2 separate regions of the Homo sapiens genome follow, and region 1 is linked to region 2. Evidence: fine-mapped expression QTL. Tissue or cell type: cerebellar hemisphere. Region 2 holds a variant in brackets; the other region holds the start of a gene. All regions are shown on one strand. Distances are between the middles of the regions. Region 1 holds the start of SYN3 (synapsin III). Region 2 overlaps FBXO7 (F-box protein 7).

Evidence for each region. PIP is the estimated chance that this variant, and not a neighbour inherited with it, causes the effect.
Region 1: it holds the start of SYN3, and the variant in region 2 is the best candidate, but not a certain one, in a credible set for the expression of SYN3 in cerebellar hemisphere (GTEx, PIP 0.55).

What each region holds. Positions count from the first base shown.
Region 1 is chr22:33,056,266-33,060,656 of GRCh38, reverse strand. SYN3 (synapsin III) reads left to right here and starts at 2,276. Exons shown (of 14, transcript NM_003490.4): 1 at 2,276-2,365.
Region 2 is chr22:32,495,955-32,500,345 of GRCh38, reverse strand. It overlaps FBXO7 (F-box protein 7), which reads right to left. Exons shown (of 9, transcript NM_012179.4): 9 at 1,517-2,202. The coding sequence ends at 1,816. Among named protein-coding and RNA genes, the nearest start is that of FBXO7, 23 kb to the right of the region's middle. RefSeq lists a cis regulatory region at 1,256 and an enhancer at 1,172-1,341. The variant A/C (reference allele first, on the strand shown) is at 2,308.

The DNA of each region.
Region 1 (4,391 bases), 560 kb before region 2:
AACCAGAGATTTAACATAATCTGAATTTCTGGCCTCTTAATAAAAATCAGGGTCTGGTGTGGTGGCTCACGCCTATAATCCCAGCACTTTGGGAGGCCAAGGTGGGCAGATCACGAGGTTAGAAGTTCGAGACCAGTCTGGCCAACATGGTGAAACCCTGTCTCTACTAAAAATACACAAATTAGCCAGACGTGGTGGTGGGCGCCTGTAATTCCAGCTGCTTGGGAGGCAGGAGAATTGCTTGAACCAGGGAGGCGGAGGTTGCGGTGAGCTGAGATCGCACCACTGCACTCTAGCCTGGGTGACAGAGCAGGACTCAGTCTCGATAAAAAACAAACAAACAAAAAACAGAACATCTGGCAACTCTGGGTGGGTCTCCATTCACATATGGCAAAAATCAGTTGGAGCTGAGCAGTGACTGTCACCTTAGGCAGGTGTGCATACCTCAGTCTGTCACAAGCCCCATCCCTCCTTTCTATTATACCCTGCCAACCTCACTTAGTACATGACTACCCGGCCACGTCGGTATTAAAGTTTGTGATCCTTCAGCTAGTCTTATGCCCTCTTAGTTACTGAGGTTAGAGTCACTCCCTCTTAGTTACTGAGATCATGTACTAACGCTCATGCAGTAAGTGGAAGATGCTGGGTAAGAACCTTCCCGATCTTGGAAATAGTACCATTACTCCACAGTGGCTCAAGCTAAACACCTAGGAGATTTTCTTCTTTCATCCCTTTACGTCAACCCCTGTCATAGTCTATTTTGTGCCAATATAACAGAATATCACAGACTGGGTAATTTATAAGGAACAACAATTTATTTAGCTCATGGCTCTGGAGGCTGGGAAGTCCAAGATTGAGGGGCTGCATCTGGTAAGGGCCTTCATGCTGAGTCACCCCATGGCACAAGGCAGAACAAGAGAGCAGCAGAGGGGTGGGGAGAGGGCCACTCCTGGCATTAATGGAATCACCTCTTAAAGGTCCCACCTCTCAACACTGTTGCATTGGGGATTAAGTTTCCAAGATATGAACTTTGGGGAACATATTTAAACCATAGCATCCCCTAAATCCAGCCTAATCCATCATCAAGCCTTCCTGTGCTACTTTTGACACACATTGCAGGAGGTCCACCTTTTCCGTATCTTGCTGTCACCACCCTGGTCTTCATCACCATAATCTCTTGCCTGAATTGTTCCCTCCAGATTGATATGACAAAGCCCTGACCCTCACGGTGGCCTACAAGGTTCTGGGTGATGGTGATTCCACACTAGTCTACCTCTCTGGCTGTAACCCACTCTCCCCTTGCTCACCTCACTCAGCCACCCTGGGGGCCAGTTCCAGCTTCAGAACCATGCATCGGCCGACCCCTCTGTCAGCAATGCTCTTGCTTCAGCCCTGGAATCGTTTTTGTCCTCCAAGTATCCAATATCACAAGCGGCCCGGAGACCACCCTAGGTATAGCAGTCCTAGACCCCTTTCTTTTTCTTTTCTTTTTTTTGGAGACGGCATCTAGCTCTGTTGCCCAGGCTGGAGTGCAGTGGCTCTAACTCGGCTTACTGTAACTTCCACCTCCCGGGTCCAAGCAATTCTGCCTCAGCCTCCCGAGTAGCTAGGACTACAGGTGAGGGCCACCATGCCCAGCTAATTTTTGTATTTTTAGTAGAGACGGGGTTTTATCATCTTGGCCAGGCTGGTCTTGAACTCCCGACCTCGTGATTCACCTGCCTCGGCCTCCCAAAGTGCTGGGATTACAGGCGTGAGCCACAGGCACCCAGCCGACATTCTCTTGTTTTTTTCGTTTGTTGTATATAACCTACCCCCACCTCCACCCCATGCAAAGTCCACGAGGACGATAGACTTTGTCTTGTTCCCTGTTGCATCCTGGCCCTAGGGCCTAGCCCACAACCTGGGACATTTCCTGACAAGGGGCCCTGGTTTCTCTGAGGTGCCACCTGAGGTCCGGGAGGTCAGCTGACTTTCCCAAAGGTGGATTCCAAGGACACTGCATTCTTCGCACTCCCCGAGGGGCGTCTAGACACTCCTGGGACCCAGAATTATTAGCTAACTGGGCTCCTGAGTCCGGTGAGAGCTCAGAGTCTAGAAGCAACTTTCCCTGCCTGGAGAGGTGAACCCAGCAAGGCGTTGGGGAGAGGCGTGGGCGAGGGAGTGGGCGCGGGTGGGCGGGGCCGTCCGGGGGCCTCGTTGCCCGAGCCAATGGGGCGCCGCGGCGCGGGGAGGCCGGGCCGCCGGGCGGGGGCGCTCGCGCGCGTTGAGGGGCAGAGGCTGAGCTCCCGGGACCCGGAGCGGATCGACTGGCGGGCGCCGCGCCGAGGCACCACCGGGCGCCGAGTTCCTGGCGGCTCGCACGGTAAGCGGCGCGGCGCCGCAAAGTAGACTTTGTGGGGTTTCTGACAGCCGGGAGACCCCACCTCGAGCGGGGGCTGCTGGTGCGTTCTCGCGTCGGGCTGCGTCCCCTGGAGCTCCGGCTCTGTGTCCGCGGGATGCGGGCGCACGGAGGGGCAGGGAGGGAGGCAAGGAGCCGCGCACCACGGTGTCTCCCCAGGCTGCCGCTGCCGGGGCCCTGGGCCGGTCCCTGGGACAGACAGATCGGCGTGCGGGGGCCGTCTGCCGGGCCCGGGAGCCGGGGGCGCGCAAGACTGTGGATCCTAAGACTGCCTCCACCCAGCGCCCGGCCCGGGGAAGAGCTTGCGGGAAACCAGGAACCGCAGCGGCCGGACCTCTGCTCTGCGCCGGCTCCTAGGACCTGCCTTAGGTCCCCAGACCCCTCATGACCTGTTGCCTTGGGTTTGGGAGGTCAGGTTTGTCATGCCATTTCCGATTTCCAGTCATCCTGGGGGCAGGATGAAATTTCAGAGTGGTTTCCTGGCCAAGCTAGAAGCAGAGAATAGCTATGGATACAGCACCTCGTGTATCTATCCAGCACTTACTTGGCTTTTTCTGAGTGCCAGGAACTGTGCCAAGCCCTAGCAGCATGAAGAATGGCCTTTGGGGAGCTTCTGGGGCTAAGAGGGACAGTAGGAGGAGCAATTGCAGTGCAGGGTAGTGCGGAAGACTCGAGATGGAGAAGAGGACGGTGAGGAAGCCAGGAAGGTTTCAGAGAGGAGGTGAGCATTGACTGGAAGTCGGAGGTTTTGCCAGGCTGAAAAGTGTGTTGGGACTGTGAGTTGATAGGGAGCAGGAATTCCAGGTGGGTTTTCTTGTGTAAAGGTAAAGAAACTGAAAAGGTCCGGTGTCCTGACCTAGCACATCAGATAATTCTACAGCAGATAATGGAGTAGGACCGGGTCTTGCTGTAGGTAGGAAATGAGCTCTCGACATGGCAGGAAGCTAAAACCTGCACAGACCTTAAAGTGCAGCCTTAGAATATTTAGAATTTTATCCTGGAATGAAGGAGGGCCGTGGAAGAATTCTGATCAGTGATCAGGTCCCTCTGGCAGCTCTGGGGACAATGGATGGAGGCCGGAGCATCAGAAAGCTGGTAAGTTGTAGTTGTTTTCTGGTCCTTGGCTGCAAATACTCTTCCCTGCTTAAGGGAGCCCCCTCTGCCCGGGAGCCCTGCTCCCTGGCTTCTGGACATGGATTCAGGCAAAGAGATGCTGCCCGTGTAATGCTTGCTTCTGCAGCCTGCACATCATTTTGATATTGTTTCTGGAGCCTGTGACCTCAGTCTTGTCATCAGGCCTCTGAAGGGTGCCTCTGCTCTTCTTTTCTCATCTTCAAGCCCTCTGTGTGCCCTTCCCCTCTGCCTGGGCTCCCCTTTCTGTTTCACAGAGATCCAGTCTCAGCCATTGGAGGCAAGGCTGTGTGTAGATTGGTGTAGTAGAAAGAACAAGGGCTCGCTGGGAAATCAGACCAGAAAGTCACTTTAGCCATAGGCTTTGGGGACATTAGCAACCTTCATGAACCTTCTTTTTCTGATTTAAAAGGAAATCATTGTACTCACCTGTCATGGTTTGGGTTCCCTGGAAAAAGACTTGGCGCTTCTGAGATTTTTGTGCAGATAAGGGAAGCAGAACTGGGCAGAGGGAGATGTTGATCTATGGTGCAGTGCAAGAGAGGTCTCAATCCCTCCCATGAGACAAAGAGACGAGGCCTTTGAAGCTTAATGTTGATCAGCCAGTGGGTGCAGGCTGGTCCTAGGGAGGGAGCTAGGATGTCCCTTCAGCAGGACAGTTCCTGACTAGGGACTCACCTGGGAGCTGGGGTAACCAACACTCTGGCAGCTGGACATGGGGAAGTCATGAGTGTCTTGGTCTTGGAGGGGGAGTTGAGCATTTCCCCACGGTATCCACTACACTACCTCACAAATGAAGTAGTGCTTTGTACTGTGCCTGGTGCATAGTAGATATCTTAAAAGTATTCATTTCTCTCAC
Region 2 (4,391 bases):
AATACATACAGCTCAACAGTCTCAGTTTAATGACAAGAATGTAGGATTTCACAAGCTTCTAACCATAAATTCAGCTTTTCAAGAGCAAATGCTTTGAGGATCGTCTTAAGAATTATAAAAAAACTATTGTGAGAGATCTGCAAATTTAGGTTTAGGCCACTGCTGATATCCTAAACTAAGTGAGATCTGTAATGTCTGCAAGTTAGTCAGAGGTGAGGATGGAAAGCAGCACCAGTATCCACAGGACACCAGCACCATCCATGGAGTTCTCAAGGGCCACTCAAAAAAGCCTGCATTCTGAACACTTGTTGTTTTATAGTATTTGGTGCTTCTGGTCGTCACCATGTCCTCCCACGCCCACTACACACATACACACATCCCCTGCATAGTGCAACATAACATTGCAAAGCCACAAAGAAATGTATCAGAGAACTAGTATATGGACCCAACAAAGCTTCAGGAGGACCTTGTTAGACCCAATTAAAGCCATATGGCATCTAGTGAACACATTTTTAAAAGGCTATCCTGTAGCTCAGAAATTACAAAATACCACAGAAAGAAATGTCAACAACTCCAATTCTTTACTACACATTAAGCTACTAAAAGTAACAGGCCTCAAGAAAATCGTATTATTCACTGCATTTTCTTCACTGTGATAAAAAAAAAAAACCTCAATATACATGTGTAGCAAAAAAAAAAATTCACTTGTATGTAGGACTCAAAATATTCTTGCAGCACATAACATTCCAAGCCATTTCCTTATATGCAAAACAGAATTTTTAAAAAAGCAGGAAGACATTGGCAATATTCCTATTTTCTGTAGATGCTAGTAGTGTTTTATTCCTATGTTGTGAATCAGATTGTCACTATAGCATGTTTCTACAGTTGTTTGTGTAAGTCATTTGTGTTTGGCCTTTTTCTTGTAGAAAAAATAAATCTTGAATTTTGTGTATTTAAGTCTGAAAAGCAAAATGTTCTTCAAATAAAAGGCTATCTTTGAAGAACAAGTACCTGATTAGCACTCAAAGCAGTAAAACTTTTTAAAAAGGTATCTTCTACTTAAGTTACAAATTAGGGGCTAAGTGTTCAAAACACAAGGAAAACAAAATCATAACCACCTCATCCCAGGAGCCACAAACAGGAGTCCCTAATACCAAATGGCCTTTCAACAGCATTGCTTCACAGCCCAGAAAGTTCCACCACAGAACCCAAGAAAGAGCTGCAGAGAGAGAGAAGTCGAGAGAAGAGGTGGATTTGAGTAGGTGTGTAGCCAAAGCACCCACCCCAAGTCCAGTTCAACCAAACTAGCTCTGTTTTCATTCATTTCATAAATCAGGCCTTTATTAGAAGACAGAGCGCTGCTAAAAAAAAAAAAAACAAACAAACAGAAAACCCTTACAAAAATTATCTGCCTATGCTATGTTCTCTGATAATTCTGAAATGTCCAAGTAACATTGTGTATCTGTTCTGAATATTTACTACATATCTTTCTGTAATAAAAGTCAAGACCACCATGTAATTTACACTTTTTTTTAATCTGGTAAGAACAGCATCAGAAAACAAACTTCAATCTAGAGGAGAACCAAGAGCAGGGAGATTGGCAGCCAACTATTCCCAAGGCCAACCTTGTCACAGAGGAACCTTTGGGTCATACCACCCCTAGGGCTATAAATGTATCTCTTAAAAGGTTTCTGGGAGTGCAACTCTCAACACCACAATCAGAAAATAACACTCGAGATCAGCACCCCAAGGAGTTGACATCTGTAGTTTAGAAACAAAAACAAATGGAGCTCCAGAAATGAAATTACAAATCAATCACATGAATGACAGCCGGCCATCAGTTGGCCGACCCCTGCTGGGTCTAAAGGGAAATCTGTCATTGGGGCCGCCTCGCCCTGGCAAGATGGGGTTAGGTCCTGGAAGTGGGCCAACTGGATCAAAGCGTGGTCTCAGTGGAGGAAACTGGCTGGGCGTCTCCCCAGGACCAGGAATGAGTGAACTGATTGGGTCTCCAACATAGGGAAGTGTTGGTCTTTGGTCATATTCACCCCCGATAATTCCTGGAGGAAGGCGGGAGCTAGGAAATGGCCTAGGGTGCAAGGGGTTGGGATAGAATGGAATGGTGTGAGTTGACGATGGCAGGAGCATCACAAACCGCCCTTTCGGGGATTCTTTTCTTTGTATGTGCCTCTTCCTGTACAGCTGTAGAAAAAAGAAAAATAAAAGAACAAGATAAGGTAAGTGATCTGGATGTTTCCCTTTAGTTCTAATTTGCTTTCATAGTAAAGATCTATAGGCACACCTCAG[A/C]CATATTGTGGATTTAGTCCCAAACCAATGCAATAAACCAAGTCACACAAATTTTTTTGGTTTCCCAGTGTATATAAATGCTATGCTATGTTTACACTATAGTAAGTGTGCAATAGCATTGTATCTAAAAAGACAATGTACATACCTTAATTTAAAAATATGCTAACAATCACCTGAGCCTTTAGCAAGTTGCAATCTTTTTGCTAATAGAGGGTCTTGCCTCCATGTTCGTTGCTGCTGACAGATCAGGGTGCTGGTTGCTAAAGGCTGAAGTGGCTGTGGCAATTTCTTAAAATAATACAACAGTGAAGTTTGTCACATTGACTCACTCTTCCTTTCATGAAAGATTTCTCTGTACATGCGATGCTGTTTGATGGCATTTTACCCACAGTAAAACTTTCAAAATCAGAGTCAACCTTCTCAAACCTTGCTTCTGTTTTGTCAACTAAATTTATGTAATATTCGAAATCCTTTGTTGTCCAGGAATAGATTCCATTCCAAGAAACCACTGATAAAGAAAATGTGGCATATATACACCATGGAATACTACTCAGCCATAAAAAGGAATGAAATAATGTCTTTTGCAGCAACTTGGATGCAGCTGGAGGCCATTATTTTAAGTGAAGTAACTCTAGAATGGAAAACCAAATCTTGTGAGACCTAACCTATGAGGATGCAAAGGCATAAGAATGACATAATGGACTTTGGGGACTTAGGGGGAAAGGCTGGGAGGGAGGTGACGGCTAAAAGACTACATATTGGGTACAGTTGTACACTGCTTGGGTGACGGGTGCACTAAAATCTCAGAAATCACCACTAAAGAACTCATCTATGCAACCAAAAACCACCTGTACCCCAAAAACTATTGACATTTTTTTAAAAAAAGAAACCACTTTCTCTCTTTATCCGTAAGAAGCAAGTTCTCATCCATTCAAGTTTGACTGTGAGACTGCAGCAATTCAGTCCCATCTTCAGGCTCCACTTCTAATTCTAGCTCTCTTGCTAGGTCCATCACATCTGCACTTCCTCCACTGAAGTCTTGAACCCCTCAAAGTCATCCACGAGGATTGGAATCAACTTCCAAACTCCTGTTGATATTTTTATCTCCCCCATGAATCCTCAGTATGCTTAATGGCATCTAGAAGGCTAAATCCTTTCCAAAAGGTTTTCAATTTCCTTTGTCCAGATCCATCAGAGGAATCACCATCTCTGGCAACTATGGCCTGACAAAATGTATTTCTTAAATAATAAGATTCAAAGTCAAAATTATTCCTTGATCCATGAGCTTCAGAATGCAGTTGTTTGCTGACATGAAAACGTTAATCTCCTTGAACATCTCCATCAGAGCTCTGGGATGACTGGCTGCATTGTCAATGAGCAGTAGTATTTTAAAAGGAGTATTTTTTATAAGCAGTAGGCCTCAATAGTGGACTTGAAATATTCAGTAAACCATGCCATAAATGATGTACTGTCATCCAGGCTTTGTTGTTCCATTTACAGAGCAAAGGCACAGATTTAGCATAATTCCTTTTTTTGTTGTTTTTTTGTTTGTTTTTTGAGACAGAGTCTCACACTGTCTCCTGGGCTGGAGTGCAATGGAGCGATCTTGGCTCACTGCAACCTCCACCTCCTGGGTTCAAGCGATTCTCCTGCCTCAGCCTCCTGAGTAGCTGGGATTACAGGTCCACACCACCACATCCGGCTAATTTTTTGTATTTTTAGTAGAGACAGGGTTTCACCGTGTTAGCCAAGATGGTCTCCAACTCCTGACCTCAGGTGATCCGCCCACTTCGGCCTCCCAAAGTGCTGGGATTACAGGCGTGAGCCACCACACCCGGCCTGATTTAGCATAATTGTTAAGGGCCCTAGGATTTTCAGAATGGTCAACAAGCACTGGCTTCAAAAATCACCAACTGCATTAGCCCCTAACAAAAGAGTCAGCCTGTCCTTTGAAGCTGGGCACTGACTACTTCTCTCTAGCTATGAAATAGATGGCGTCTTCTTCCAATAGAAAGCTGTCTCACCTACACTGAAAATCTGTTGTGTAATGCAGCCACCTTCATCAGTGATTTTAGCTACATCTT